Homo sapiens: one gene and its partners. The protein of the gene in region 2 interacts with the protein of the main gene of each other region in a pairwise test. Each region holds a gene or a part of one and is shown on either strand. Other genes may lie near its edges.

The links.
Region 1: the proteins of LMNB1 (region 2) and KPNA5 interact in binary tests that used the Homo sapiens proteins (3 or more experiments, as listed by UniProt).
Region 3: the proteins of LMNB1 (region 2) and FAM169A interact in binary tests that used the Homo sapiens proteins (3 or more experiments, as listed by UniProt).
Region 4: the proteins of LMNB1 (region 2) and KPNA6 interact in binary tests that used the Homo sapiens proteins (3 or more experiments, as listed by UniProt).

What each region holds. Positions count from the first base shown.
Region 1 is NC_000006.12:116,676,381-116,684,232, forward strand, and holds the start of KPNA5 (importin subunit alpha-6), read left to right. Parts: upstream 1-4,830; 5' UTR 4,831-4,954; coding exon 4,955-4,958; intron 4,959-5,066; exon of another isoform or gene 5,067-5,112; coding exon of another isoform or gene 5,113-5,172; intron 5,173-7,852. UniProt on the Homo sapiens protein: Functions in nuclear protein import as an adapter protein for nuclear receptor KPNB1. Binds specifically and directly to substrates containing either a simple or bipartite NLS motif.
Region 2 is NC_000005.10:126,808,130-126,815,154, forward strand, and holds part of LMNB1 (lamin-B1), read left to right. Parts: intron 1-2,050; coding exon 2,051-2,221; intron 2,222-3,643; coding exon 3,644-3,769; intron 3,770-7,025. UniProt on the Homo sapiens protein: Lamins are intermediate filament proteins that assemble into a filamentous meshwork, and which constitute the major components of the nuclear lamina, a fibrous layer on the nucleoplasmic side of the inner nuclear membrane.
Region 3 is NC_000005.10:74,863,370-74,870,387, reverse strand, and holds the start of FAM169A (soluble lamin-associated protein of 75 kDa), read left to right. Parts: upstream 1-4,000; 5' UTR 4,001-4,223; exon of another isoform or gene 4,224-5,058; intron 5,059-7,018.
Region 4 is NC_000001.11:32,111,056-32,118,080, reverse strand, and holds part of KPNA6 (importin subunit alpha-7), read right to left. Parts: intron 1-7,025. UniProt on the Homo sapiens protein: Functions in nuclear protein import as an adapter protein for nuclear receptor KPNB1. Binds specifically and directly to substrates containing either a simple or bipartite NLS motif.

The DNA of each region.
Region 1 (7,852 bases), on a different chromosome or scaffold from region 2:
GTGACAATTCTGAAGGGCCATCCCAGCTTCTGCACTTCCTATAAGATTGTCTGAAGTCTCTGTTGCTAATAATGCAACATAATTTATCTCTCTGTAGAATCCTGCTTCCTCACTCCTGTTATTATTCCCAAAGAGCACTCTGCAATAAATATCAGGTGGCAAATCTTGAATCTCAGTCTGTTTCCCTGTGTTCCGTGAAAGGGCTGTATATGCAAAGCAACTGCCAAATGTTGAAGGAGCCAAGAACCCAAAAAGGCAGAAAAATCAAGTTAATTGGTCTTGGGTGATTTATTAGGGGAACTTACAGACAGAAGCGTGGTCTTGGGTGGCCGCAAGACAGGTAGATCTCCATACCACTAAACCCAGGGCTAACTCTCTAAACCCAGGGCTTATATCTTAGGGAAAATATACGTACTCTGGAAGGAATGTTTAGGTGGCTACAGGTGTCACAGCCTGTGATTTCTGTAGCAGCATCAAGGATTGTTTTGGAGGAAACTTACGGTGAATAGGTGTTCCTACTTAAAGAGTAATACATCAACTAGACATTTTGGGAGCATTCCTGGACTTGGGGTTAGTCAGAAATGCTAATGGCAGATTAGCATTTCAAATAAAGTCACTCTGTCCCCACATCCTGGATCAGACCTATCGATAGCAGCAAGGATACATGCTGTTGTGTGGAATGACTTGTGCTACAGAAGTGAGGGAAATTTAACAATAATTTACAACTTCAACAATTAGGATGGTCATGTGTCCCAGTTTGCCCAGGACAGTCATCCCAAAAAAGTTACTATTAGTACCCCATTCCACTATCAAAAATGTCCTGGTTAACACAAATTATATGATCCTGCTACTGATAACTTTGAGTCTTAATCTAGTTCTCATTAAGATAAACTACTTAGGTACGAATCACAGCTACTTCTTACTAGCCCTGTGACAGTGGAAAGTTTACTTACACATTCATCTGTGCCTCAGTGTCCCCTATCTCATGTTGTCATTGTAAAGTTAAGTATATCAAATTTTAATTTTGCAGTGATCAACAGGATCTCAGAAGAAGTATGTTCTTACTTTGATAACTTACCTGCTTCCTTATTCCATTTGGGCTGCCATAACAAAAATACCAAAAATGGGTTGACTTATAAACAGTAAACATTTACAGACAGTCCCCGACTTATGATGGTTTGACCTATGACATTCCAACTTTACAATGGTGCAAAAGTGATACACATTAATAATAAACCATACTTCAAATTTTGAATTTTGATTCAAAAATTCTTTATAACTTTATTCTGACATAGGCTTTGTGTTACATGACTTTGCCCAATTGTAGCCTAAGTGTTATGACTATGTTTACAGTAGTCTAGGATAAGCTATAAGGCTCAATAGGTTAGGTGTATTAAATGCATTTTTGACTTACAATATTTTTCAACTTACTGATGGGTTTGTTGGGAAATAACCCCATTGTAAGTTGAGGATCATCTGTATTCCTCACAGTTTTGGAGGCCAGAAGTCCAAGATCAAGGCTCAGACAAATTTAGTGTCTGATGATAGCCGGCTTCCTCATAGACAGTACCTCTACACTCACATAGTGGATAGGCAAGGCATTTCCTTTGACCTTGTTTTACAAGAGCACTAATCCCATCATTAGAACTCCATCCCCATGATGTAATCACCTCTCAAAGGCCCCACTTCTTAGTACCATCACTTTGAGGGTTAGGTTTCAACACATGAATTTGAGAGGGACAAACATATTCAGACCATAGCATCTGCTTAAGTAAAAAGAAATTGGTGAGCCAATGGGTTAGAACCCTTTCTTTTCCATCATGGCTTGTGGAGGAGGTAAGCTAATAGGGCAATACGCTCTCTACTGTTGAGGCAGCAGCTTTTGGGATAAAAGGACCACTGAGAAGTGGATTTTATTTTGACAGGCAGATTGGGAAAGATGCCATAGAAGGTCAGGTCTTGGTAGGAAGTTGCTGTGGTTGGCATTGCATACAACTAATGAAGTCAGCATCTTGATACCAATCCTATTCCTCCAGTTCTTTCCTGGATATGAAAAGCCGGGACCTAGACCCTGCTGAGCAGAGGTCTAAAAGACACCATTATCATCTCTTCTGCCATATCTATCCAGAGGGAAGGCATGTCCAGATAGCAGGAATCTTCTTCAGGAGTATAGAAACAAGTGCAGACCATCTAAATGAGAACAAGCAAAGCCAAATTTATTTGGAGCTTACAATAGCAAGGGAGTCAGCCATCATCACTTGCATTTGTCAGAGACTCAACGGCAGGCAGAGGAGTGAGAAAGCTTTAGAGTGGAAAAAAGGGAAAGCTTCAGGTATGCCAATTCAAGGCTGTTGGCATGGAGAAGCTGCAGGTGGGCTAACTAAAAGCAGGGCATCCTATGTAATTATTTAGGGGTGGGTAGATATTTGGCTCTCTCTAGCTGGCCTTGAGTTGGAAGCCCTGACAAAACTTACAGAAGCTGTAAGTTATTAATCACGTCCTGGCCATTTGGGGTAGATTGCTACAAGGGTTATTGCTTGGCTTCCTGGACTGGTTGCTAAATATAGTAATCTGATTTCTTGGACTGGTTACTGGACATAGTAGGTTGCCTTCCTGGACTGGTTGTTGAAGGTTGTAGGTTAGTGTTCTATTTGTATATATTCTCTGGCCATTGTCTATTTGAATTCAGTCTCCCAGGACGGAGGAGTAGGGAGGAAATAAGAAAGGGATAGGGTGGCCAGGTGATTAAGGCAAATAAACTCCTATCAGTACTCCAATAGTCCTGTTGTCAGAGGCGTTTGAACCAGAGTGACTCCAACTTGAACAGGTGCTGGGTAAAACGAGGCTGAGACCTACTGAGCTGCATTCCCAGGAGGTTAGGCATTCTTAGTCACAGAAGATTGGAGGTCCACGCAAGATACAGGTCACAAAGACCCTGCTGATAAACAGGATGTCGTAAAGAAGACAGGCCAAACCCACCAAAACCAAGATGAAGACAAAAGTGACCTCTGGTCATCCTCACTTCTCATTATACGTGAATTATAATGCATTAGCATGCTAAAAGACACTCCCACCAGCACCATGACAGTTTACAAATGCCATGGCAACATCCAGAAGTCATACAGTCTAAAAGAGGGTAGAACCCTAAGTTCCAAAAATTGCCTGCCCCCTTCCTTGAAAACTCATGAATAATCCACCCCTTGTTTAACATATAATTAAGAAATAACTGGCTGGGCGCGGTGGCTCACGCCTGTAATCCCAGCACTTTGGGAGGCCGAGCCAGGAGGATCACCAGGTCAGTAGATTGAGACCATCCTGGCTAACACGGTGAAACCCTGTCTCTACTAAAAATACAATAAATTTCCAGCTACTCGGGAGGCTGAGGCAGGAGAATGGCGTGAACCCGGGAGGCGGAGCTTGCAGTGAGCCGAGATGGCGCCACTGCACTCCAGCCTGGGCGACAGAGCAAGACTCCGTGTCAAAACAAACAAACAACACACAAAAAAACTATATACTCAGTCCAGCAGCCCAAGCCACTGCTCTGCCTATGGAGTAGCCATTCTTTTGTTTCTTTACTTCTTTAATAAACTTGCTTTCACTTCACTATATGGACTCATGATTGGCAACGCTTTCTGGTAACACTGCCCAGGTTTCCTTTGTCAAGCGTGCCTTTCTCAGCCCTACATACCCACAGTTAAATAATCCCTTCTCTCCTGTTTATTTTTCAACTATTGAAAATAGCAAACATCTTAAAACAATTTGTCTTCATGTTTTTCCTCTTAAAAAATTGCAAACGTCTTCTGGGCAGGATTTATGTATTGTTTATCTTATTTATTCTCTTCCTATTGCATCTGGAACACAGTCTGTTTTCAATACCGTTTGTTGAACTCCAGGGTAGATTACAGGGCTGTGTATTATAATCTACAGTACTTTAACTGAAGTTACTCGTTTATTGGTGACTACATTGCTGTCAAAAATACACTCATGTGGCTGGGTGTGGTGGCTCATGCCTGTAATCCCAACACTTTGGGAGGCTGAGGCGGGCGGATCAGGAGGTCAAGAGATCAAGACCATCCTGGCCAACACGGTGAAACCTGGTCTCTACTAAAAATACAAAAATTAGCTGGGCGTGGTGGCGCATGCCTGTAGTCCCAGCTACTTGGGAGGCTGAGGCAGGAGAATCGCTTGAACCTGGGAGGCGGAGGTTGCAGTGAGCCGAGATCGCATCACTGCACTCCAGCCTGGTGACAGCGCCAGACTCCGTCTCAAAAAAAACCCCCCAAAAACAGAAAAACAAAAACAAAAAACCGCAGATGTTATAGAATATAAAATTATAAATGACAAAAAGCTTGAAATAAAACGAGCAGAGCATATAAAAGTTAATGAAGCTGAAGAAAACGTGAGCTTCTCCGTACACTTAACAAGGCTGCGATTTTTACCAACTTTTTTGCACTGTTGTAGCCCCAATAATGTATCTAAAATGGTACTTGACACAGTTTATATCCTTAAGAATGTATGCATGCACGCACGCGTGAAGAATGAATGAATGAGGGGTCGTCCCTTTGCACACACGGAGGTCTACGGGCCGCAGAGTACCTACAGCATGGCCACCGCAAGCGCAACTAAAATCCAGGGCTTGTCGCAGGCACAGGCTCCTCCTTCGGTGGGTGGGACGGCGGCGCGCACTTTCTCTACGCCCCACTGCTAGGATGTGCGGCCACCACTCCTCCTCCGCCGCCGCCGCCGCCGCCGCCGCCGCCGCCGCGTCGAGTGCAAGGGCTTCTGGGAGCCGAGCCTCGGGGTCTCGGAGAAGGGGCGCAGGTGGCCGCCATCTTGGATTGCGAACTGGGTCGCTACGCTTCACGCCAGGGGCGGAGTGGCGGCCCTTCTGTTACCCGCCACACACGTCGCCGCTGGGGACTGGGAAATCAGGGCATCGGAGAGTGCCACATTAATGGGTAAGTTGGAGTGAACACGGGCTAGGTTGGGGGAGCCTCGGTTTTGGTCCCTTTGGGAACTACTAGTTCCTGGGGCCACGGTTTTTATTTACCCCTTACTTTGCGAAGGTCTCTGGAACCTGGCGGTGCCGGGTGTTTCTCGTGTTTTCCCCAGGGCGACAGCGGTCGCGGGGGCGTGGCAGCCGGACCTTTCCCTTGCGGACGCGAAGGCGTGGTGAGTTCAGATTCTTTCAGCAGGTCCTCTGGAGTGATGGGCAGCTGGTCTCATCTTCGCCGCCCCGCCTCACCGTTTCTCGGTAGTTCTTTTCAGTTAATGGAATTGCCAAACGTTGCCACTCATACCTGGTACCCATCAGCTGTGTCCAGCAGCTTATGGAAATTCCACAGTGTCCAAAGAAGAGACAGGTTCCATCCCGAGGGCCTCCTAGCCTCGCCCTCTCCATCCGCCAGCCTCCCTCCTCCACCTGCGTGCAGGTGCCTCTAGTGCTCATTCCCGACGACAAGGCAAGCCTGGGTTCCACGCTTCTAATAGTCGGGCAGCTCCGTTCTAAGATGAAAACTTAGGTTTTCATCGATAATACATAGGAGATGGAAGTATTTGAAAGCTGTGAAATGACAGTGATATGTCTAAAGAATATGACATTGGCGGCGGGCGCGGTGGCTCACGCCTGTAATCCCAGCACTTTGGGAGGCGGAGGCGGGCGGATCACGAGGTCAGGAGATCGAGACCATCCTGGCTAACACGGTGAAACCTCGTCTCTACCAAAAATACAAAAAATACAAAATAAAATACAAAATAATAAATACAAAAAAAATACCAAAAATACAAAAAAAGGAAAAATTAGCCTGGCATGGTGGTGGGCGCCTGTAGTCCCAGCGACTCGGGAGGCTGAAGCAGGAGAACGGTGTGAACCCGGGCGGCGGAGCTTGCAGTGAGCCGAGAGCGCCATTGCACTCCAGCCCGGGCGACAGAGCGAGACTCTGTCTCAAAAAACAAACAAAAGAATATGACACTGGCATTTACTTTTGAGCTTTTTAGACATGTTTTTTAAAAAAGACAAAAACACTAATGATTTATCTCTCAATTACAACACCCAATAATGATGACTCATATTCTGTACAAAAGTGGTTTTCTTGGTAGGTCAGGAGCAACTCTCTCCCTCCGACCTAAGTACTGCTTGTTTGGTTGTGAGGGCTCTCTAGTTGGCACTTCCCCCGCTTTGTGCAGTCTTTTACTTTCACTAATGAGGCGCCCAGCCCCATGGAAATGAAGGCTTTACTGGCATAAGAAATAATGTCGATTGATATTAAAGAAAATCATAAGTTCAGATTCCAGTTATTTGCCCAACTTAAACATGGTTTTTCTAAGAGCCGTTGAAAGCTTATGAATGAAAAAAATTCCTCTATTCTGTAACTTTAAAGTGCTGGAATAACATTTCTAAATAAAAATATTTAATTTTTATGAGACCTCAGCCTTTGAAGTGCAGCCTTTAAATTTATTTTTCAGTGAACGAAACAATCCCATTGGATGGGGCCCCTTTAGAGATAATTTCCCTTGGTTTATTGTCCCCTTTAAAGCAACTGCAGTGAGGATGGATGCAGTGTTAAATCTGAAGCCGGAAGTCAGTACTATTGAAGAAAAAGGAACAAGTGATATCTGAGTTGTTGGTGCTGTATTTTATTTGGCTAAAATTTATGCTGAACAGTTACAATGTGGTTGCTTGGATTAATGGTCTCATAAGTAGCGCCTTTGTATGTGTGCGTGGTGGGGCACAAGGTGATCCAGTCAGATGTGGTAAGAAAATATTAGAACTTCTATTTGTTTACCTTTTAAAACTTTCATTCTTAAAAATTTCTGTTTTTTGTGAATTTTATGCTAGAGTAGTATATTAGAATAGTAATGCATGTATAGAAATAAATATATTGAGGATGAATGCACAAATGTATTTTACGAATGTAGGATGTGTGATTGAAAACGTTTAGAGCCAGTGGCCTAGAATATGCTACATATATAGGTGATAAATACTTTAAGAGTTTTATTTCCATGAGCATTTTATTTTACTTAAATATTTTATATATATTGAGCGTAATTCAACAACTAATACTGTGGTCAGTTTGCACTGTAATGAACTCTGATCTCTAATTTTTTCCTTTCAAGAGTCTAGCTTTTTATAGATATAAAATAGAGAATAATACCAAACATTGTTATTAGTAAAGTTATGTTGAGCGGTTTCCCTCTTTTATTTATTATTTTTTTTTGAGATGGAGTCTCACTCTGTGGCCCAGGCTGGAGTGCAGTGGCATGATCTTGGCTCACTGCAAGTTCCGCCTCCCGGGGTTCATGCCAGGAGTCTCCCTCCCGGGGTCTCCTGCCTCAGCCTCCTGAGTAGCTGGGACTACAGGTGCCCACCACCACGCCCGGCTAATTTTTTGTATTTTTAATAGAGATGGGGTTTCACTGTGTTAGCCAAAATGGTCTCGATCTCCTGACCTTGTGATCCACCTGCCTCGGCCTCCCAAAGTGCTGGGATTACAGGCGTGAGCCACCGTGCCCGGCCTTTTTTTTTTTTTTTTTTTTTTTTTTTTTTTTTTGACAGAGTCTTGCTCTGTCTCCCAGGCTGGAGTCCAGGCTGGAGCGATCTTGGCTCACTGCAACCTCTGCCTCCCGAGTTCAAGCAATTCTCCTGCCTCAGCCTCCAGAGTAGCTGGGATTACAGGCTTCTACCAGCATGCCCAGCTGATTTTTGTATTTTCAGTAGAGACAGGGTTTCACTATATTGGCCAGGCCGGTCTTGAACTCCTGACCTCAAGCGATCGACTCTCCTTGGCCTTCTAAAGTGCTAGGTTTACAGGTGTGAGCTACCCCGCCCGGCCATATTGAGCAGTTTCTAATG
Region 2 (7,025 bases):
CCAAAGTGCTGGGATTATAGTTGTGAGCCACCGCACCTGGCCTTTTTTACTTTAAAAAAAATTTTTTTGTGTGAGACAGAGTCTCACTCTGTTGCCCAGGCTGGTGTGCAGTGGTACGGTCTTGGCTCACTGCAACCTGTGCCTCCTGGATTCAAATGATTCTTGTGCCTCAGCCTCACGAGTAGCTGGGATTACAGGTTCACACCCTCACAACTGGCTAACTTTTTTTTTTTTTCCTTACTTTTTACTAAGTAATACCATGTTGGCCAGGCTGGTCTAAAACTCCTGGCCTCAGGTGAGCCACTCGCCTCAGCCTCCCAAAGTGCTGGGATTACAGGTGTGAGCCACTACGCTGGCCTTAACTTTTTTTTTTTACATTCATGATATATATTCAGTAATAATATCTAACTTCCTTATTATGAACAGTTGGGGGAAAAAAGGAAGGAGAAAGACGAAAGAGGAAGGAGGAGGTAGACAAAGAACAAACCATTAGCAGTCACTCTTCAGTATTTTTGTGATTTAGGTATTATTTGCTTCATGAAATAGATGTGATCTCTGGGAAGGTGATAGCAGAATCCTCCTGATTTTTCTGATTTTTCAGATTTTGTCAAGTGCATGCTCCTGTGTAGTAGTTAAGAGAAAGATGAAGAAATGCAAAGGAAAATACATGCGCTAATATACACAAACAGCAACTTTGGTGGGTTATACTTCCCTCTTGTGGCTTCTTCAGATATTACCATTCTAATTATTATTTTTTTTTTTTTGAGACGGAGTCCAGCTCAGCTGCCCAGGCTGGAATGCAGTGGTGCGATCTTGGCTCACTGCAACCACCGTCTCCCAGGTTCAAGTGATTCTCCCATCTCAGCCTCCTGAGTAGCTGGGATTACAGGCACCCTCCATCATGGCTGACTAATTTTTGTATTTTAGTAGAGACAGGGTTTTACCATATTGGCCAGGCTGGTCTTGAACTCCTCACCTCAGGTGATCTGATTGCCTTGGCCTCCCAAAGTGCTAGGATTACAGGCGTGAGCCACCGCGCCCAGCCTTCCATTCTAATTTTATTTAGACACTTCCTTAAAACAGAGTAAAGGAAAGGATCATGACAACTACTTCTATTCTTCAATGGTAAATTTTTCATAAATATTTGAGTTAGTCAACTAATATTGTTAATAAGATCCTGTGTCACTTGATAATGATAGCTTAATACCGGCTTTTAAAGAAGTCATGTAAATTAGCTTGTGCTGCCTATTATTATGTCTAAGAAAATGGTTTTATGGCTGGGCAAGGTGGTTCACACCTGTAATCCCAGCAACTTGAGTGGCTGAGGCAGATGGATCACCTGAGGTCAGGAGTTTGAGACCAGTCTGGCCAACATGGGGAAATCTCATCTCTACTAAAAATACAAAAATTAGCTGGGCATGGTGGTATGTGCCTGTAATCCCAGTTACTAGGGAGGCTGATGCAGGAGAATTGCTTGAACCCGGGAGGCGGAGGTTGTAGTGAGCTGAGATCATACCATTGCACAACAGCCTGGGCGACAGAGTGATACTCTATCTCAGAAAAGAAAAGAAAAGAAAAGAAAATAGTTTCATTTCACATAAATCTTTACATGAATTTATCACAACTGTTAAGTTTAACTTTCCATGTGCTGTTTTTTCAGAGATGTTCTTAAGATTATCAATGAAACAATTCAGAAAAATAATTTTTGCTTAGTGTTTAGTATAGTATACTGTGTATAAATCCTTGATTGCAGATAGTTTTAGTAGGCCATCCAGGCCTTTCCTTGGCTTCAGAAAAATAAATAGCTATGCTCCTGAAAAGGAATAGAAAGTTCCTAAGGCTTGAGATGCTACCACTTCTGTCATTAGTTCCATTTCAAAAACCTCAACTGAAAACTAAGAGGCAAAAAAGTGTTTATTCACATGACCGCCTGAGGACAAACAGGAGGAAGTTCGTGTGTAAAACTTCAGATGGCTGTGATGTCACTCAGATGTGTACCAATGCAGCCATGGTAAGTAGCTTGGCTTTATGCTTTTTGTTTTTTCCCCAGGAGATTAACGAGACCAGAAGGAAGCATGAAACGCGCTTGGTAGAGGTGGATTCTGGGCGTCAAATTGAGTATGAGTACAAGCTGGCGCAAGCCCTTCATGAGATGAGAGAGCAACATGATGCCCAAGTGAGGCTGTATAAGGAGGAGCTGGAGCAGACTTACCATGCCAAAGTGAGCTCTCTTCAGAAGATTCTTTTGAACACTTAAAATCATTACTTCACAATTCCCATGATGAACATGGCTTTATGTTTATTTTGTTCTAGTTTTTAAAAATGATTCCCCTAGTCTCCATGAAATATATAGAAAATTGATTTTTTCAAAAAAGTGCAGTTTTCTATAAACTAAATGTTATTAAAAATTACTAGAAGAATGTAGGGTTGTTGCAATTTTATTAGAGGTTAGGTTTTGTCTTTTTGTCCCATTGATCATTCGTACTATGCCATAGTAGTTGAACCCAAACCATGTGAAATAACTTTCTTCCAATAACAAGTACTGATCATGCTGTCCTACATAAACATCCATTTAGTAATGAATGAATGTCAGACTGCATTAGATCTCACTTTCATGTCATCATTGTGCATAGATTGTGACTACCACACTTCCGGCTTTTTTGCATAAGGGCCAAATGGAAAGTCTCTGCTATTTCTTCTTCTGTCACTATTATTCACTTAAAAAAATATTGTAGAAACTTCCCACTTATATTAGCTGACCTTACAAGAATTCATAAAAATCACCAACTAGTACAGGCTTTCCCTGGTAAATGATTTTGCCTTGTGTTTTAAATGTTACATGATTTGATTAAAAAGACTTTTTTGTGGTTGACTTAGAATATTAGAGTCACAGAGTTATTGAAAATTTTCATTGCATGGCTTTAAACTGTTCATGTTGCTTTTTATCTATTGTATGAAGTAGCAGTTAGTGAAAGTGAAAGATCTTATTATAAGCAGTAACTTCAGTTGTATAACATTTATCTAATATCACACATTGAGCTATACAGTGAAGGAGCTAAAGTAAGGATCCGTCACAGACTGTGGCCTCACAGGGAGCCAGGGAGGAGACACAGGAGCATGTCCCTGAGACACACATACACAATAGTGTTATGGGATTTGTATTTTACTCAAGGAGTTTTTTTTGCTTCTGAAAGGAAGTGTTTCTATCTGGTTTGAACGAATCTATAAACTAGTATTTTCTGCTTGTTGGTTTACATTCTGTATTGGATTTGGTGGGTTAGGGATATGTGATGTTTCTTTTCTTACAGACACCACCACAGTCAAGTTGCTATTGCCCAGTCTTCTTATTATCAGTGTTATCTTAGACATTAAAGGTTTAATAGATGAAATATTGAAGTAATAAGCTTTGGGTAAAGGCCTAGGTATATTAGCATTCTTAAAGCTCATTATTTAGGAAGTGACTCTAAAAGTCACACAGAATTACCATCATTCACACCATATCAGCAAACTTCATGATGCTTTTCCTGTGTTTCATCTACCAGTTACCAGCAGGACTTAGGTTTGAAATGCCTTGAGGTGAATCATGCTTCCTTTTTTGTTTCAGTTCTAGATAAGACTGACTATGCTTTGCTTCTTCTTTTAGCTTGAGAATGCCAGACTGTCATCAGAGATGAATACTTCTACTGTCAACAGTGCCAGGGAAGAACTGATGGAAAGCCGCATGAGAATTGAGAGCCTTTCATCCCAGCTTTCTAATCTACAGAAAGAGGTAAATAATCATCTTTCTGTAAGAAGTTAGACTTGAAGGCTACCTTCACCACGGGCACCTACCTGCTTTGCTTGGGCTGATGTCACTCCTCCCTCTGTTTGTTACAGAGGATGGTGTCATCCTGTGCTTTCGTCTTCACAGTACTTTTCTAGATTCGTTCATTTTGCATTGCATAAACATCCTGTGAGCAGATACTATTGTTCCTAATTAGTAGATTACACAGAGCTAAGGGACTTGCCCTTGAGGAAGGAGCCTGCTAGTTTATTCACTGTACTTACCCTAGGACCCGGATCTTCCGACCTGTCTAACAGCTTCATCTCTACAGAGTTATTCTCAACACCTTCCTTTTTTATATCATTTGAAAACCAAAATGAAGAAAAACATGCAAAAATTCTTTGTGGGTGGTGAATGCTTTGTGTTTCTAGACAAATTCTTTAGTGCTTAAAGTATATAACAATTAGGATCCAGGAAAGTAGCTTTAATTTGCATATTCCGATAAGAATTTAGTGACTCATTCATTCGTTGGTACGCCTAAGTGACAAATGGCATTATTGCCGGCTGTGTTGACTGGCTGCCTATCAGGGTGTGATGGTGTGCTTCAGGTGCTGCTTAAGCAGGCATGGACACTACTTCAGATCAGTTTTAGCCTAGGGTGATGTCAGTGTGGACACAAAGTACATATACTCCATATACTGCATTCAGAATGATTCAGCAATTAACTCGTCACCTTAATTATTTTGGAAATAACTTCCGCTTCTATTTTCCTCAAGGGAGGAAATCTTGTTTTGAATTTTCCACATGAGAATAAACTTTATTTTACTTTTTTTTTTTTTTTTTTTTTTTTCTTTTTGAGATGGAGTCTCACTCTGTCGCCCAGGCTGGAGTGCAGTGGTACGATCTCGGCTCACTGTGAGCTCCGCCTCCCGGGTTCACGCCATTCTCCTGCCTCAGCCTCCCAAGTAGCTGGGACTACAAGTGCGTGCCACCACGCCCGGCTAATTTTTGTATTTTTAGTAGAGACGGGGTTTCACCGTGTTAGCCAGGATGGTCTCGATCTCCTGACCTCATGATCCACCCGCCTCGGCTTCCCAGAGTGCTGGGATTACAGGCGTGAGCCACCGTGCCCAGCCTATTTTACTCTTGATTGGGCTTTTCTTCCTTCCTTTTTCTTTTTACCATTTTTAGTAAAATATTTTTCTAATTATAAAACTGATGACCTCTGTTGCAGGAACTTAGAAATAAAGCAGAAAATGAGTCCCATAAAATGGGGTGATATAAAATAATTTAGTTAACACAGGGGCTTTTACACTGTCTATCATGTGCTTTGTTACTTACGGCACAAATTTTTAAATTATTTTAAACCTATTTTGTGCTGATAGTGTTTTGAAGATTTTCATTTAATAGCAGAGCTGGAAGCACCTCTGAGTTCATTCCATGTAACCACAGATCTAGGTGAGTTTAATGATTTGCCCGTTGCCCAGAGGCTGCAGACTGATAAATGGGTTTCTCTACTCCTTCCCAGTTTTTCCTTTTATAACTCATTTTCTTCAAAGAAGATTTACTTTTAGAAATTTAACAGATAATCTTTTTTTCCATTGCACCATCTGTCTTAGTCCTTTTGGGCTGCTATAACAAACTACTATTGACTTGGTAGCTTATAAACAACAGATATGTCAGAAATTATTTCTCACAGTTTTGGAGGCTGGGAAGTCCAAGATCAAGGCACTGGCAGATTGGATATCTGCCTGGTGAGGGCTGTTCCCCGATTTATAGATGGTGCCTTCTTGCTGTGTCCTCACATGGTTAAAGGGTGAATGAGCACCCTTGGCCCTATATTATAAGGGCATGAATCCCATTCACTAGGGCTTTCCTCTCATGATCTAATTACCACTCAAAGGCCCTACCTCTTAATATCATCACCTTGAGGGTTAGGATTTAAACATGAAATTTGTGGGAACACAAACACACAGACTGTATCACTGTCTTTGTTTTTCTTGTTGTTTTTTTTTCTTCTGAGACAGAATTTCGTTCTTGTTGCCCAGGCTGTAGTGCAATGGCGCAATCTCGGCTCACTGCAACCTCCGCCTCCCAGGTTTAAGCAATTCCCCTGCCTTAGCTTCCCTAGTAGCTGGGATTACCGGCATGCACCACCACACCCTGCTAATTTTGTATTTTTGGTAGAGACAGGGTTTCTCCATGTTGGTCAGGCCGGTCTTGAACTCCTGACCTTAGGTGATCCGCCCGCCTCAGCCTCCCAAAGTGTTGGGATTATAGGCGTGAGCCACTGCACCTGGCCTATATCAACTGTCTTAACAGGTACTTTTCCAAAAATGGGCCTCTCTGTTCTTGTACTGAGTTGGCATTTACTACTCTTTTCCATTTACTAATAGTAAGTTGTCTACTAGTTACTGTCTATCCCTCAATTTTATTTTTTCCTACTGTATTATTATTTTTTTGGCTGCTGCCTAATCCATTTGATTTACTTAGTACAGATCTTCTCTTGAGGTTGATCTTCACTGTGCTTTGGATGAGGAGACTGTTATTAATAAGTAGTAGTGGGCTCTGAAACTTAGTAGCTATGTGTTCTAACCTAGGTTCAAGGCTGTTTCCCTGTTAATTGAATTCCCATTTTTGCAAGTTGGTTTTTTTTTTTTTTTGAGACAGAATTTTGCTTTTGTTGCCCAAGCTGGAGTGCAATGGCACTATCTCAGCTCACTGCAACTTCTGCTTCCCAGGTTCAAGTGATTCTCCTGCCTCAGCCTCCTGAGTAGCTGGGATTACAGGCACGCGCTACCACGCCCAGCTAATTCTTTGTATTTTTAGTAGAAATGGGGTGCACCATGTTAGCCAGGTTGGTTTCAAACTCCTGACTTCAGGTACTCTGCCTACCTTGGCCTCCCAAAATGGAAGGGATTACAGGCGTGAGCTGCTGCCTTAAATGCTGGGATTACAGGTGTAAGCCACTGTGCCTGGCTGCAAGTTTTTTTTGTTAACCTTATCTTAGTGGTTTTTAAGTAATGTTAGGCAGTGCACTGGGGGTTTCCAGGAGCTAACTCCTTAGCAGATAGGAGACGAGCAATCCCTTTAGCCAAAATAGTTTTTAATTTCTCTGGGGTGAATCTTTCCTCTGTTCATTATTGGTAACAGACTTTATGGTAAACAGTATATTTTGAGGAATATTTTTATTAGTTGATAAATTTTAGCCTTAGAAAAATCATCAAAAATAAAAATGTTATCTTTTTGAATATTTTCCTAT
Region 3 (7,018 bases), about 52 Mb from region 2:
GCAGGTAAGATTGTCTTTCTACATTGCCATGGCTGATATTATTAGCTAACTAGTTAGCTGACTGGCTAATAGTTTCAATCTAGAAATCCCTGGGCTACCTCAGTTATTAAAATGTTCTCCTGTGGCTCACGCTTGTAATCCCAGCACTTTGGGAGGCCAAGGCGGGTGGATCACAAGGTCAGGAGTTCGAGACCAGCCTGACCAACATGGTGAAACACCATCTCTACTAAAAATACAAAAAATTAACCGGGCATAGTGGTGCGTGCCTGCAATCCCAGCTACTCAGGAGGCTGAGGCAGGAGAATTGCTTGAACCTAAGAGGCGGAGATTGCAGTGAGCAGAGATCACACCACTGCACTCTAGCCTGGGCGTCACAGTGAGACTCAGTCTCAAAAAAAAAAAAATCCCTGTGATTTTATGTATTTAAAACATATGATGGATTCTAAATCTACCCATTTATGCCGAGACCAGCTCAGCTGGGGAGACCCTGGCCCAGGGGCGCTAGAGGAATTAAAGACACACACAGAAATACAGAGGTGTGGAGTGGTAAATCAGGGGTCTTACAGCCTTCAGAGCTGAGAGCCTCAAACAGAGATTTACCCACATATTTATTGACAGCAAGCCAGTGATAAGCATTGTTTCTATAGATTATAGATTAACTAAAAGTATTCCTTACAGGAAACAAGGGATGGGCTGAAATAAAGGGATGGGCTCTGGCTAGTTATCTGTAGCAGGGGCATGTCCAGGCACAGGTCGCTCATGCTATCGTTTGTGGTTTAAGAACGCCTTTAAGCGGTTTTCCGCCCTGGGTGGGCCAGGTGTTCCTTGCCCTCATTCTGGTAAACCCACAACCTTCCAGCGTGGGCGTCACGGCCATCACGAACATGTCACAGTGGTGCAAAGATTTTGTTTATGGCCAGTTTTGGGGCCAGTTGATGGCGAGATTTTGGGGGGGCCTGTTCCCAACATATTTATGTCTTATTGGAGTGTCAAAGATGATGATAAATCTTTCTAAGGAAATGTGTCTTTTCCACGCGCTAAATAAACAGAATGAAAACTTGTAATTATGCCCTGGAACTGGGGGACGGGACTTGGAGAGCAATTACACTTAAATGATGTAAAAATGAAAAATGTGTTTTTCAAAAACTAACAGATTATAAAATTTTGCTTAGTATATACCAGAGGAAGTTTTTACAAGTTTTCTTTCTAACTTGTAAACTTGTAACTAGTTTTAATTCTTCCTTCCTGTCTGGGAAAATACTAGATCTAAGAAATTATTTAAACTTGAAAGTATAGGACATTTAGTATGTTTTAGGGCTTCAAAAGCAAAATCTATCCATATGGTATAGGATTTTGTGCACATTTAAGGCAGTATGGAATTCTGGTTAAGGGAGTGTGCTCTTGAGCCAACATGCTAGGATTACTATCTGTGTGACCATGGGCAAATTGCTTAGTTTCTCTGTGTGCCTCAAGACTCCTCTTAGGTAAACTGGGGGTAACAGTGTATACCTGCAAGGATGGTAAGAGGATTAAGTGAATTAATTTCCATAAAGAAGTCTGTAGAGTGCCTGGCAATTTGTTAGCTGTCAAAAACATCAGTTATGATTTTAGCTATTAAGAATTCCTCTTCCCCAGTGCAACTAAAGAGCTCTTTTCTGGGTCATGTGTATTAGTAACCTCCAAAATCCAGGGTTGTGGCAAGCTTCTTTTACTTAAGATGGTTCCACTCCTCTTTAAACATAGAGGAAAAATACAATCAGAACGAACTCTTAACATGTTTCCTTTGCTAATAACAAAGTAATAATTAAAGCAAGCATTGCAAAAACAAAAACCAAAGCAATAATCCTTTTACTCTAAAAACGGTTCAGAAAAAAGCCTCAAAGCATATTTCAAAATATTGTGGTAACAATTTTCAGCATATACTAATCTGACAAAGGCTCATGTTTTTAGTTGTTGTTCTTTGCCCACTAAGATAAGCAAAATTTATCTCAGCCAAAGAGGGAAGTCAATGGTGATTTAAAAAGAAAAAACCAAAAACTCTCAAAAATAGTGTCATTTGCAAGTAGGGAAAAGAGAATCAGGCCTGGCGCAGTGGCTCACGCCTGTAATCCCAGCACTTTGGGAGGCCGAGGCGGGCGGATCGCTTGAGCTCAGAAGTTCAGGACCAGCCTGGGCAGCATGGCGAAACTCCGTCTCTACAAAAATTAGCGAGGTGCGTTGGTGTGCACCTCTGTCCCAGCTCTTCCGGAGGCTGACGCCGGAGAATCGCTTGAGCTTGGGAGGCAGAGGTTGCAGTGAGTCGAGATCGCGCCATTGCATTCCAGCCTGCCTAGGCTGTGGGAGTGAAACCCTGTCTCAAAAAAAAAAAAAAAAAAAAAAAAAAAAATTGGACCTTTTCTTTTATAGGTCTGGGTGAATGTAGTTCTGTCTCCTACCAGAATAGCCAGACATCTGGGAGCCAGGCCTCCCTGACCCAGGCACAAATACCCGCATACTTCTAAAACAATAGCTAAGAGTCAATCACACCCAGGCATTTCAAATATTATCAACAAGTTGTATTGGTTAGCTTTACACTAAGGCCTGAGGCTTCAACATCTGTAGGGCATAGTCTGGTAGCCAAAGCTTCCCCAAATGGCAATTGTTTGGGATTACCCTGGGGACTCCTACTTACACATAGCTCTAGAAATGTAAATACAAGTCATATAATTTCATTCATCACTGGCTATGGGTAGAACCCAACTACCCAAAATTCCTGCTCTATTAAATCTAATTCATTAAGTTTCATTAAAATGGTAAATGATGTGTAATAGTAAAGATTTTGGCTAATTAAATATTATACAAATGAAACAATAGATTCTTATATGGCAGAAAAGCTTTTTTTAAAAATCAGGGTCAAATATATCTATATCAACAAGCATTCTTTGAAGTATTTTTTGATCTTGCTAATTTTGCTAATCATTAGTAAATTCGTGAAAGTTGGTATTGTGATTGCTAAATATTTCCCAGGAATGAAAGAAGCAATTTTCAACTTTTCTGGATGAGCTGAACATAATACTACGGTTCTTGGATGATGAGTAAAAGAAAGTCTTGACATTAATACTTAGATACAATATTGTTTCTCAATACAGTTATTAAATATATTTAGACTACAATACGCATTACCTTAAAGACAATTTATCATGTTTTAAATGCTGGAGGGCTAATTTTCAGTAGGAGTGTGTAATTAGCAAAGGCGCCAGAGGCCATAAGACGGTAGAATAGAGCTGGGAGAGGCACGGGAGGAAAGCCGGATGGAACCCTGTTGTCTTTCTGGGTCAGGGTTATTCTGTACCGGTTAAACGGTGAAAGAGAAAAGGTCAGCGCAGGAATGTGGTATTTCCCTGACATCTCCAGATGAAAGTCCGGGCTCTAGGACTTCTGTAGACTGTGAAAGCAGCCCACGATTCTAACTTGCATGCACCTAAGTGGCAGTAGGTTTAGGATGAAAGTGGTGGGGCGGAGGCCGGCGGTCCTCGCCCGTGCCCTCTGCACCCCTGTCCCGAGGCCGGGATGGCCGCGCCCACTCTGGGTAAATTTCAGGAGGGCCTACGCGGGGCTGGAGAACTCCACCGGGCTATGCGAACAGAATCCTGCGAAGGTCGGCATTAAAGGAATACGCAAAATCAGCGTTGCAGCCCCCGCGGCTTAACCGCATCTATTTTTATATCTAAGCCAAGGTCACTCTTTAATACCAGGCCATTGCCCTGAGCTGGGCGTCGCGCTGCCGGGTGACGGCGGCCGGGGCGGAGAGAGGGGGCGCGGGTGGCGAGGCGGGGGCCGCGTGACGCCCCCGGGCTGGCCAAGCCCGCACCTGCCGGGCCGGCGCCTGAAAGCCGGGGCTGGAGGGAGGCAGGGCGGCGTCCCAGGCTCCGAGGAGGGGCCGCTCCGCGCTGGCGGGCGGGGGGATTCGCGGTGGGCGCGGGCGCGGAGCGGAAGCGAAGGCTGGAGGCGCTGCGGCGCTAGTGCGTCACGTCGTCGGAGGGCACGGTGGGCCGCGGCCGACCCGCGACGAGGAGCCGGGCGTCCGGGGCGAGCGGGAGGCAGCCGCACTCGCCCTGGCAGCCGCGAGCTGTGCGGCCTGGGACCGGCCGGAGGTCGCCAGCGAGCAGCCGCCGGCTCCATTCATTCGCGCGGCTCCGCCTCCTTTCCCGGGCTCTTCCAGCGGCTCCCGGGGCGCGTCTGAGGTGAGTGCGCTCCCTCTCCCCGGCGCGGACCGCTGGGTGAGGCCGAGACGGCCGCGCCGGGCCCCGCGCCCCCGCCAGCACCAGACCCGCGGACACCGAGCGGCGACGCGGGCCACCGGCTGTGGGCGGCCCCTGCGGGCTGGGCCTGGCGCAGACCAGTGCGGGCCGCCTGGACCCGGGGCTCGCGTCCAGCTGGCGGCGGTCTGCGGGGATCCCGTAGGGCGTGTGGCGCCCCCAGGTGCGCCGGCCTCCGCCTCGGCGCCACCATTTTGTGTGAGGGAATGCCCGTCTTCGCTCGCCTCCGCCGCGGGCCGGTTCGCAGCTGCGGCTTGCCGCCCCCTCCCCTCGCCCTCTCCCCACCTGGATGCTTGGCGTGCGAGCTGATTGCTTTGGCTTGGGGAGACGCGGACTCGGGGAGGTGTGGAACTTCAGCGTTTAGACTCGGTTCACCCGACCAGGTGGCCTCCAGAGATGCTCTGACCGCCTTCCTTTACCTGTAACTACTTTTGGAACAGATATTGTATGATTCTCCCTCCTCTGGAATGCTGGTCGTTGCAGTTTTGTCCTAATTGTGTTCTCAGCTCTCCATTATGCCATTTTTCAAGAGGCCTGTGCCTCAGGAGGTGAAGCCTTGAACCCTGGGTGGTTTATGGCTCGGGGGTCTGGATTACACTGACTCCCATGACTGTCCTTGGGGAGAAAGGATGAAGCATCTCACTGGCTTTTCAGCGTCTGGGAAGCGGCGTGGGTATCGTATCGGGTGGATTCGAAGATAACCACCTGATGCAGGTCACCTTCCCCCGCTGGGAGAGCCGTTCCTAACGTAAATTAAAACGTGTGTACGGGTTTTTGGGGGATTGGGACCGGAGGGACATATTTCTAAAAAATTTCCAGAAGGGAAAGTTTTCATTGTGATTCTCACAGAACTGTGACACAATTTGTCATTTTCAAGGTTCCTGAGAATTTGGGAATTCTTTTAATTCGTTGGCTTCTTGCGAATTACTACTTACGAACTGAGCAGATTATACCCAAGCCATTTATATTTTGTCATTGCATCACAGACAGGGATTACAATCGGGAGTGCTGGCTGTTGCATAATGCACACATTTGGGCCCTGGAGGGAATTCACCGAAGTGGATCTGGGTTTGGTGTGCCATGCGTTTTTATTTTTTACACAGGATGTACAGATGATCTTTGCAAACTACGTCCCTTATCGTGCTATAAAGTGTTTACAAGAGGAAAGATTTTTATTGACTAGTATGGACCAGACTAAAATTTTTAGTGTTTTAGTTTTGCTTGTTTTGGAGGAAAGGCAAGGAATGAGATGGTGAGAGGCACCTGGGAAAAGTCCGTTTATCCTAACACTTGAAGCGCAAACAAAGATAAAACATGATCGTCTTTCACAGAAATCTTGTAGCTATTATAGTGGACTTTTCTCTAAGTTAATGATGGGGATCTGTTTGGGGAACTTAGAAATAGCTTATGTGAGTAGCAACATTGACCTTCCACATGAGTGACCATAAATTAAGGTGTTTTACCTGTGGATTTTAGGTTCTAAAAGGCTTCAAATTAGTCTGACCTTTGAGATAGTATTCATGTCATTACAAGTGGTATTTATTTAATAAAGATGGGATATAGGCCGGGTGCGGTGGCTCACACCTGTTTTCCCAACACTTTGGGAGGCCAGAGCGGGTGGATCACGAGGTCAGGAGTTCAAGACCAGCCTGGCCAACATGGTGAAACCCCGTCTCTACTAAAAATACAAAATTAGCCGGGTGTGGTGGCACATGCCTGTAATCCCAGCTACTCGGGAGGCTGAGGCACAAGAATCACTTGAACCCAGGAGGCAGAGGTTGCGGTGAGCCGAGATCGTGCCCTTGCACTCCAGCCTGGGCAACAACAGTGAAACACCAAGATGGAATATATATCCAACAAAGGATTTTGATTTGGAGAAAACAAAATAATTAAGTGCTTTTGAGGTAAAGTTTCCATGCCATCCTCCTTATTAAATTAAACTATTTATTTTCTGTTTTGTTGAAGACTCTCCCACTAATTTTGTCTTCAAACAAGTGATTACATATTGTGTACCATCCCTGGCAAAAATATCGTGCTTCCCATTATAGATATGTTTATTCTATAGGGAGAATTATGGAGGCGAGAAGAACCTTGGACATTTAGAGATGAGTCTTGGTTTAGGGAATTTAAGTAAGCAAAGATTGCCTGCTAGAGATTGCAGGTGACCTGTCTGGACCTATCCTAGGCCTATGGGGAATGAGATTTTTTTTTTTCTAGCAAATAACAGTGCTGAGTCAAACACAACTCTTAAACTTTTACATTGATTCTGTTATTATACAAGTCAGAGAAGTTCACTGAATTGGTAAGATTGTATTGACTCCAGTTTGGAAGTGATCTTGGTGTGCTTTTGTCTTTGAAGTTGCTTGAGATTTTGAGCATTATTTACCAATGGTTGAGAAATTGAAAAGAAAAATCGAATATTTTTCTCTATTAGCTCCTACCTAAATACTCCGTTTTAAGCCTTAAGCATACTATGTTCAGTCATCTGCCTAAAAATTCAGTAAGATTTACTTTTTAAAGGTAAGTACAACATAAGAGAGTTGAGTATTCATGTAGTGGTTCCCACAATATCTGTCAAGGATTCTGTATAAAGGATTGTTGTTTGGGTAGGAAGTTAAACAAAACTTGTATGTTCCTTCCCCTAAGATTTTATGATTCTAAGTGAAAAAAGGAATTGTGTGATTATTGTATTTAAGACGATAGTCTCTTCACATGCCATT
Region 4 (7,025 bases), on a different chromosome or scaffold from region 2:
CATGGTGGTGCATGCCTGTAATCCCAGTTACTCAGGAGGCTGAGGCAGGAGAATAGTTTGAACTGGGAGGCAGAGGTTGCGGTGAGCGGAGATTGTGCCACTGCACTCCAGCCTGGGCAACAAGAGCGAAACTCCATATCAAATTAAAAAAAAGAAAAGAAAAACAGGTGAGATTTCTATAGGAAAAGATGGGTGGGGAAGAGATTGCTTTAGCTACTTCAGGAATGCTTATGTACAAACAGCCCATATTTTGATTAGAATCATACTGAGTAAGCGTCTCTTCCATGTATTAGCTATGAATTTGCCCAAGTTACTGAAACCTCTCCATCCTTTGGTTTTCTCAACTAAAACATGAGAATCTGAGAATTAAATGAATATATAAAGTACAGGCATATCTCATTTTACTGTGATTCACCGATACTGTGTGTTTTTTTATTGTTGTTATTGTTTTTGTCTTGAGACAGGGTCTCACTATGTTGCCCAGGCTGGTCTCAAACTGCTGAGCTCAAGAGTTTCACCTGCCTTAGCCTCCCAAAGTGCTGGGATTATAGGCGTCAGCCAGCATACCCAGCCAATGTGTGTTTTTTTTAAAAAAAAAAAAACAAATTGGGCCGGGCGCAGTGGCTCACGCCTGTAATCCCAGCACTTTGGGAGGCCGAGGCGGGTGGATCACAAGGTCAGGAGTTCAAGACCAGCCTGGCCAAGATGGTAAAACCCCATCTCTACTAAAAATACAAAAAGTTAGCCGGGCGTGGTGGCAGGCGCCTGTAGTCCCAGCTACTCAGGAGGCTGACGAAGGAGAATCATTTGAACCCGGAGGGTGGAGGTTGCAGTGAGCCAAGATCGTGCCACTGCACTCCAGCCTGGGTGACAGAGTGAAACTCCGTCTCAAAAAAAAAAAACAAAAAAAAACAAATTGAAGGTTTGTGGCAATCCTATGTTAAGCAAGTCTACTGGTGCCATTTTTCCAGCAGCATGTGTTCACTTTGTGCCACATTTTGGTAATTCTCGTAATATTTCAAACTTTTGTTTTTTGTTTTATCTGTTATGGTGATCTGTGATCAGTGATATTTGATGCTAGTATTGCAACTGTTTTGGGGTGCCATGAGCCATGGTCATATAAGATGGAGAACTTAACTGATAAATACTGTGTATGATCTGACTGCTCCACCAACAAGCCATTCCACAGTCTCTCTCCCACCCTATTCCCTGAGATACAACAATATTGAAATGAGGCTAATTAATAACCCTACAATGGCCTCTATTTGTTCAAGTGAAAGGGGCAGTTGCATGTCTCCACATTAAGTCAAAAGCTAGAAATGATTAAGCTTAGTGAGGAAGGCATGTCAAAAAGCCAAGATATGGTGAAAGCTAAGCCTCTTGCGCCAGTTAGCAAAGCTGTGAATGCAAAGGAAAAGTTCTTTTTTTTTGTTGTGAAGGAGTTTCCAAGTCTGGAGTGTAATGGTGCGATCTCAGCTCACCGAAACCTCCACCTCCTGGGTTCAAGCGATTCTTCTGCCTCAGCCTCCCAAATAGCTAGAATTGCAGGCATGTGCCACCACACCCGGCTAATTTTGTATTTTTAGTAGAGACAGGGTTTCTCCATGTTAGTCAGGCTGATCTTGAACTCCTGACCTCAGGTGATCCGCCTGCCTGGGCCTCCCAAAGTGCTAGGATTACAGGCATGAGCCACTGCACCTGGCCAGGAAAAGATCTTGAAGGAAATGAAAAGTACTAGTCCAGTGAACACACAAATGTTTAAAAAAAACAACCGGCCGGGCGCTACTCAGGAGGCTGAGGCAGGAGAATGGCATGAACCCGGGAGGCGGAGCTTGCAGTGAGCCAAGATAGGGCCACTGCACTCCAGCCTCTGTCTCAAAAAAAAAAAAAAGAAAAGAAAAGAAAAAACAGCCTTATTGCCAATATGGATAAACTTTTAGTGGTTTTGACAGAAGATCAAATCAGCCACAATACTGCCTTAAACCAAAGCCTAATCCAGAGCCAGGCTCTAACGAGACTGGTTCATAAGGTTTAAGGAGCCGAGCGCAGTGGCTTATGCCTGTAATCCCAAGACTTTGGGAGGCTGAGGCAGGTGGATCACCTGAGGTCAGGAGTTCGAGACCAACTTGGCCAACATGGTGAAACCCCATCTCTACTAAAAATACAAAAATTAGCCAGATGTGGTGGCGGGCACCTGTTATCCTGGCTACCTGGGAGGCTGAGGCAGGAGAATCGCTTGAATCTGGGAGGAAGAGGTTGCAGTGAGCTGAGATCATGGCACTGCACTCCAGCCTGGGCGACAGTGAGACTCCGTCTCAAAAAGAAAGGGTTTAAGGAAAGAAGCCATCAATGTGGAGGCCAAACTCAGTGACTCATGCTTGTAATCCCAGTGGCTTTGGAGGCTGAGGAATAAGGATCACTTGAGGACAGGACTTGAAGACCAGCCTGGGCAACATGGTGACACACTGTCTCACAAAAATTTAAAATTGGCTGAGTGTGGTGGCACACACCTGTAGTCCCCAGCTACTTAGAAGGCTGACGTGGGGGGATCCCTTGAGCCCAGGAATTAGAGGTTGCAGTGTGCTATCTTGCCACTGCACCCCAGCCTGGGTGACAGACAAAAACCCTATCTTAAAAAAAAAAGTTGGGCACAGTGGCTCACGCCTTGTAATCCCAGCACTTTGGAAGGTTGAGATGGGCGGATCACGAGGTCAGGAGATCGAGACCATCCTGGCTAACATGGTGAAATCCCATCTCTACTAAAAATACAAAAAAAAATTAGCCGGGCGTGGTAGCGGGCGCCTGTGGTCCCAGCTACTCGGGAGGCTGAGGCAGGAGAATGGCGTGAACCCGGGAGGCCGAGCTTGTAGTGAGCTGAGGTCGCGCCACTGCATTCCAGCCTGGGCAACAGAGAGAAACTCCGTCTCAAAAAAAAAAGTGAAGCCGGGTGTGGTGGCTCATGCCTATAATCCCAGCACTTTGGGAGGCTGAGGTGGGCGGATCACTTGAGGTCAGGAGTTCGAGACCAGCCTGGCCAACACGGCGAAACACTGTCTCTATAAAAATACATAAATGTTCTGGGCGTGGTGGCACACACCTATAATCCCAGCTACTTAGGAGACTGAGGCACCATAATTACTTGAACCCGGGAGACAGAGGCTGCAGTGAGGCGAGATCGTGCCACTGCACTCCAGTCTGGGTGACAGAGTGAGACACTGTCTCAAAAAAGTGCAAGGTGAAGCAGCATGTGCTGATGCAGAAGCTACAGCAAGTTATCCAGAAGATCAAGCTAAGATCATTAATGAAAGTGGCTACACTAGCCAACAGATTTTCAATGTAGAAGAAACAGCTTTCCATTGGAGGAAGATGTCATCTAGGACTTTCATAGCTAGAGAGAAGTCAATGCCTGGCTTCAAAGCTTCAAATGACAGGCTGACTCTCTTGTTATGGGCTAATGCAGCTGGGGCCTTTAAGTTGAAGTCAATGCTCAATTACTATTCTGAAAATCTCAGAAGCTTAAAACGTATGCTGAATCCACTGTGTTTATGCTTTATAAATGGAATAAAGCCTGGATGACAGCACATCTGTTTACAGCTTGATTTACTGAATATATATATATATATATATATTTTTTTTTTTGAGACAGAGTTTCGTTCTTGTCGCCCAGGCTGGAGTGCTGTGGCGTGATCTCAGCTCACTGCAACCTCCACCTCCCAGGTTCAAACAATTCTCTTGCCTCAGCCTCCACAGTAGCTGGGATTATAGGTGTGCACCACCACACCAGGCTAATTTTTTGTATTTCTAGTAGAGACAAGGTTTCACCACATTGGCCAGGCTGGTCTCGAACTCCTGACCTCAAGTGGTCTGCCCGCCTCGGCCTCCCAAATTGCTGGGGTTACAGGTGTGAGCCATTGCGCCGGCCTAATGTTGTTTTCCCACCTGTTAATACAACATCCATTCTGTAGCTATACAGAATCCATCCATTCTGTATGAATTAAGGAGTGATTTCAACTTTCAGGTCTTATAAAAACATTCACGATTCATAAGAAGTCAAAATATCATAAATAAGAGTTTGGAAGAAGTTGATACCAACCCTCACGGATGACTTTAAGAGGTTCAAGACTTCAATGGAGCAAGTTACTGCAGATGGGGTGGAAACAGCAAGATAACTAGAAGTGAAAATGTGATAACTAGACAACTGAAAATATGATTGAATTGCTGCAATCTCACGATCAAACTTGAATGGATGAGCAGCTATTCTTACGGGTGGGCAAACAAATGGTTTCTTGAGATGGAATCTACTCCTTGTGAAAATGCCGTTAATCCTGTTGATAAGACAATAGGCTGGGCAAGGTGGCTCACACCTGTAATCCCAACACTTTGGGAGGCTAAGGCAGGAAGATCACTTGAGCCCAGTTCAAGACAGGCTTAGGCAACACTCTTTAAAAACAATTTAAAAAATTAGCCGGGCATGGTGGTGCATGCCTGTAGTCCCAGCTACTCGGGAGGCTGAAGTAGGAGGATTGCTTGAGCCTGGGAATTCAAGGCTGTAGTGAGCTGTTGATAGCACCACTGCATTCCAGCCTGTGTGACAGAGTGAGACCCTGTCTTAATAAATAAAAAAAACATATATACATACATACATACACACATACATGAAATGACAACAAAGGATTTTTGGGGTTTTTTTGAGACAAGATCTTGCTCTGTCGCCCAGGCTGGTGTGCAATGGCACAATCATCTCACTGCAACCTCAACCTCCCAGGTTCAAGTGATTCTCCCACTTCAGTTTCCTGAGTAGCTGGGACTACAGTCACGCGCCACCACACCCAGCTAATTTTTTAAATGTTTTTTTAGAGATGGGGTCTCACTATGTTGCCCAGGCTGGTCTGAAACTCTTGAGCTCAAGCAGTCCTCCCACCTCATCCTCTCAAAGTGCTGGCATCATAGGCGTGAGCCACCAAGACCGGCAGATTTAGAACATTACATAAACTTAGTTGATAAAGCAGTGGCAGGGTTTGAGAGTACTGACTCTAATTTTGAAAGGTCTATGGCAGAGAGAAATGTTATCAAACAGTATCACATTACAGAGAAATCTGTGGTGAAAGGAAGAATCAATTGATGTGGCAAATTTCATAGGTTGTTACTGCCACCCCAGACAATCACCACCCTGATCAGTCTCAGCAGCCATCAACATCAAGGTAAGACCCTCCACCAGCAAAGATTACAGCTCACCAAATGGCAATTTTTCACAATAAGGATTTCTTAATTAAGATATGTACTTTTGGCTGGGCATGGTGGCTCATGCATGCCTATAATCCCAGCACTTTGGGAGGCTGAGGCAGGCAGATCATGAGGTCAGGAGTTCAAGACCAGCCTGTCCAACATGGTAAAACTCCGTCTCTACTAAAAATACAAAAATTAGCTGGGTGTGGTGGTGGGCACCTGTAATCCCAGCTACTCAGGAGGCTGAGGCAGGAGAATGGTTTGAACCCAGGAAGCGGAGGTTGCAGTGAGCCGAGATCACGCCATTGCACTCCAGCCTGGGTGACAGACAGGGCCAGCCTGTCTCAAATAAATAAATAAATAAATAAAAGAGGTACTTTTACTCTACATATTATTGCACACTTAAGAGACTACAGTATAGTATAAAGATAACTTTTATATGCATTGGAAAACAGAAAAATTCATGTGACTTGCTTTATTATATTTGCTTTATTGCAGTGGTCTGGAACCAAACTTGCCTTAGCTCTGAGGTATGCCTCTACTTAGAAGAGTACCTAGCACATAGCAAGTTCTATACAAGTGTTGGGTATTATTATTATTATAGCTTTCCCATCTCTGTCTTTGTTTGTGGTTCACACATTTTGGTGCAACCTGGGTTAAAATACAAACTGGCAAAAAATAATAAAATAAAAGCTGGCAAGTCTCTTTTAAATAAGGAAGGCTTCTCCACAAGTTCCCCAGGCTTCCCTTCCCATCTAATTAGCAAGAACTGCATCATATGCCCATGCCTAAATCAATCACTGTCTAGGGAGCTAGAGTTACAATGATTGGTTTAGAGTTTATATCAAGACCCACCCCTTGGGGTAAGGAAGGGTGGCCAGATTCCCAGTTAGCACAGTAGTAGTAATGGTGAAAAGACAAGTAGTGTCTGCCAAGACTCATGAGGTTGTAGTCTCTGCTAGAGGGTCAGAATAAAGCAATCTCCAGAGCTACAAATATCACCCCTACAGGGCACCTAGTGGCAGGGAAATCACTGCAAAGGTCTGTTAAGGGTAATGAAGTTTGGCATAGTAGAAATAGTGTAGGATATACGACTGAGCTAGTAGGATACAGACTGAGAGTACACTTAAGAGGCAGTGAAATACGGCAGGTTCCGTACTTGTGGGCATGTGAAGGCAGGCTGTGTTAGTGTCTCCAGTGCCCAAAGGATCCAGAATACCAGCCTTGGACTAGTCACCTAATCTTCTCAAAGCCTCAGTTTATAAGTGTAAATGGAGATAACCCAAGATACCTTAGATTAGATGTTAGAATTAAATGAATGCATTAGTTTGGTCTACAACAAACAAAAAGCTGACATTCATAAAGACAAGCTACGATGAGGGAGAGGTACCTGAGATGGAGCTGGAAAGAGGAAGTTACCTGACTCTAGGCTAAAAACCCCCTTCAAGACCTTGGTCAGGGTTTGTTGCTCCACTGAAGAACTTTCATGTTGAACTGTACCAGAATAGGACTAACTTTATTTCTTAACTTCTTAAGTCTTATAGATTTATGTGCTGCAAAATGGGTAAGAATCTTACTCCTGGCTTTGTGGCTTACTGGCTGTGTTATCTTCTCCGAGACAGTTTCCCAATCTATAAAACTGAGTAAATCTCTACTTATTTCACTGAGCTTATTAAACATTAGTTCCTTCCCTTTGAGGCAACAGTGTTTCTGAAACTGAAGACCAATATAAAATTTATAACAAAGTTTATAACATAAAACCCCCTAAATTTTTTTCACTGAAAGATGAAGCTCCAGCT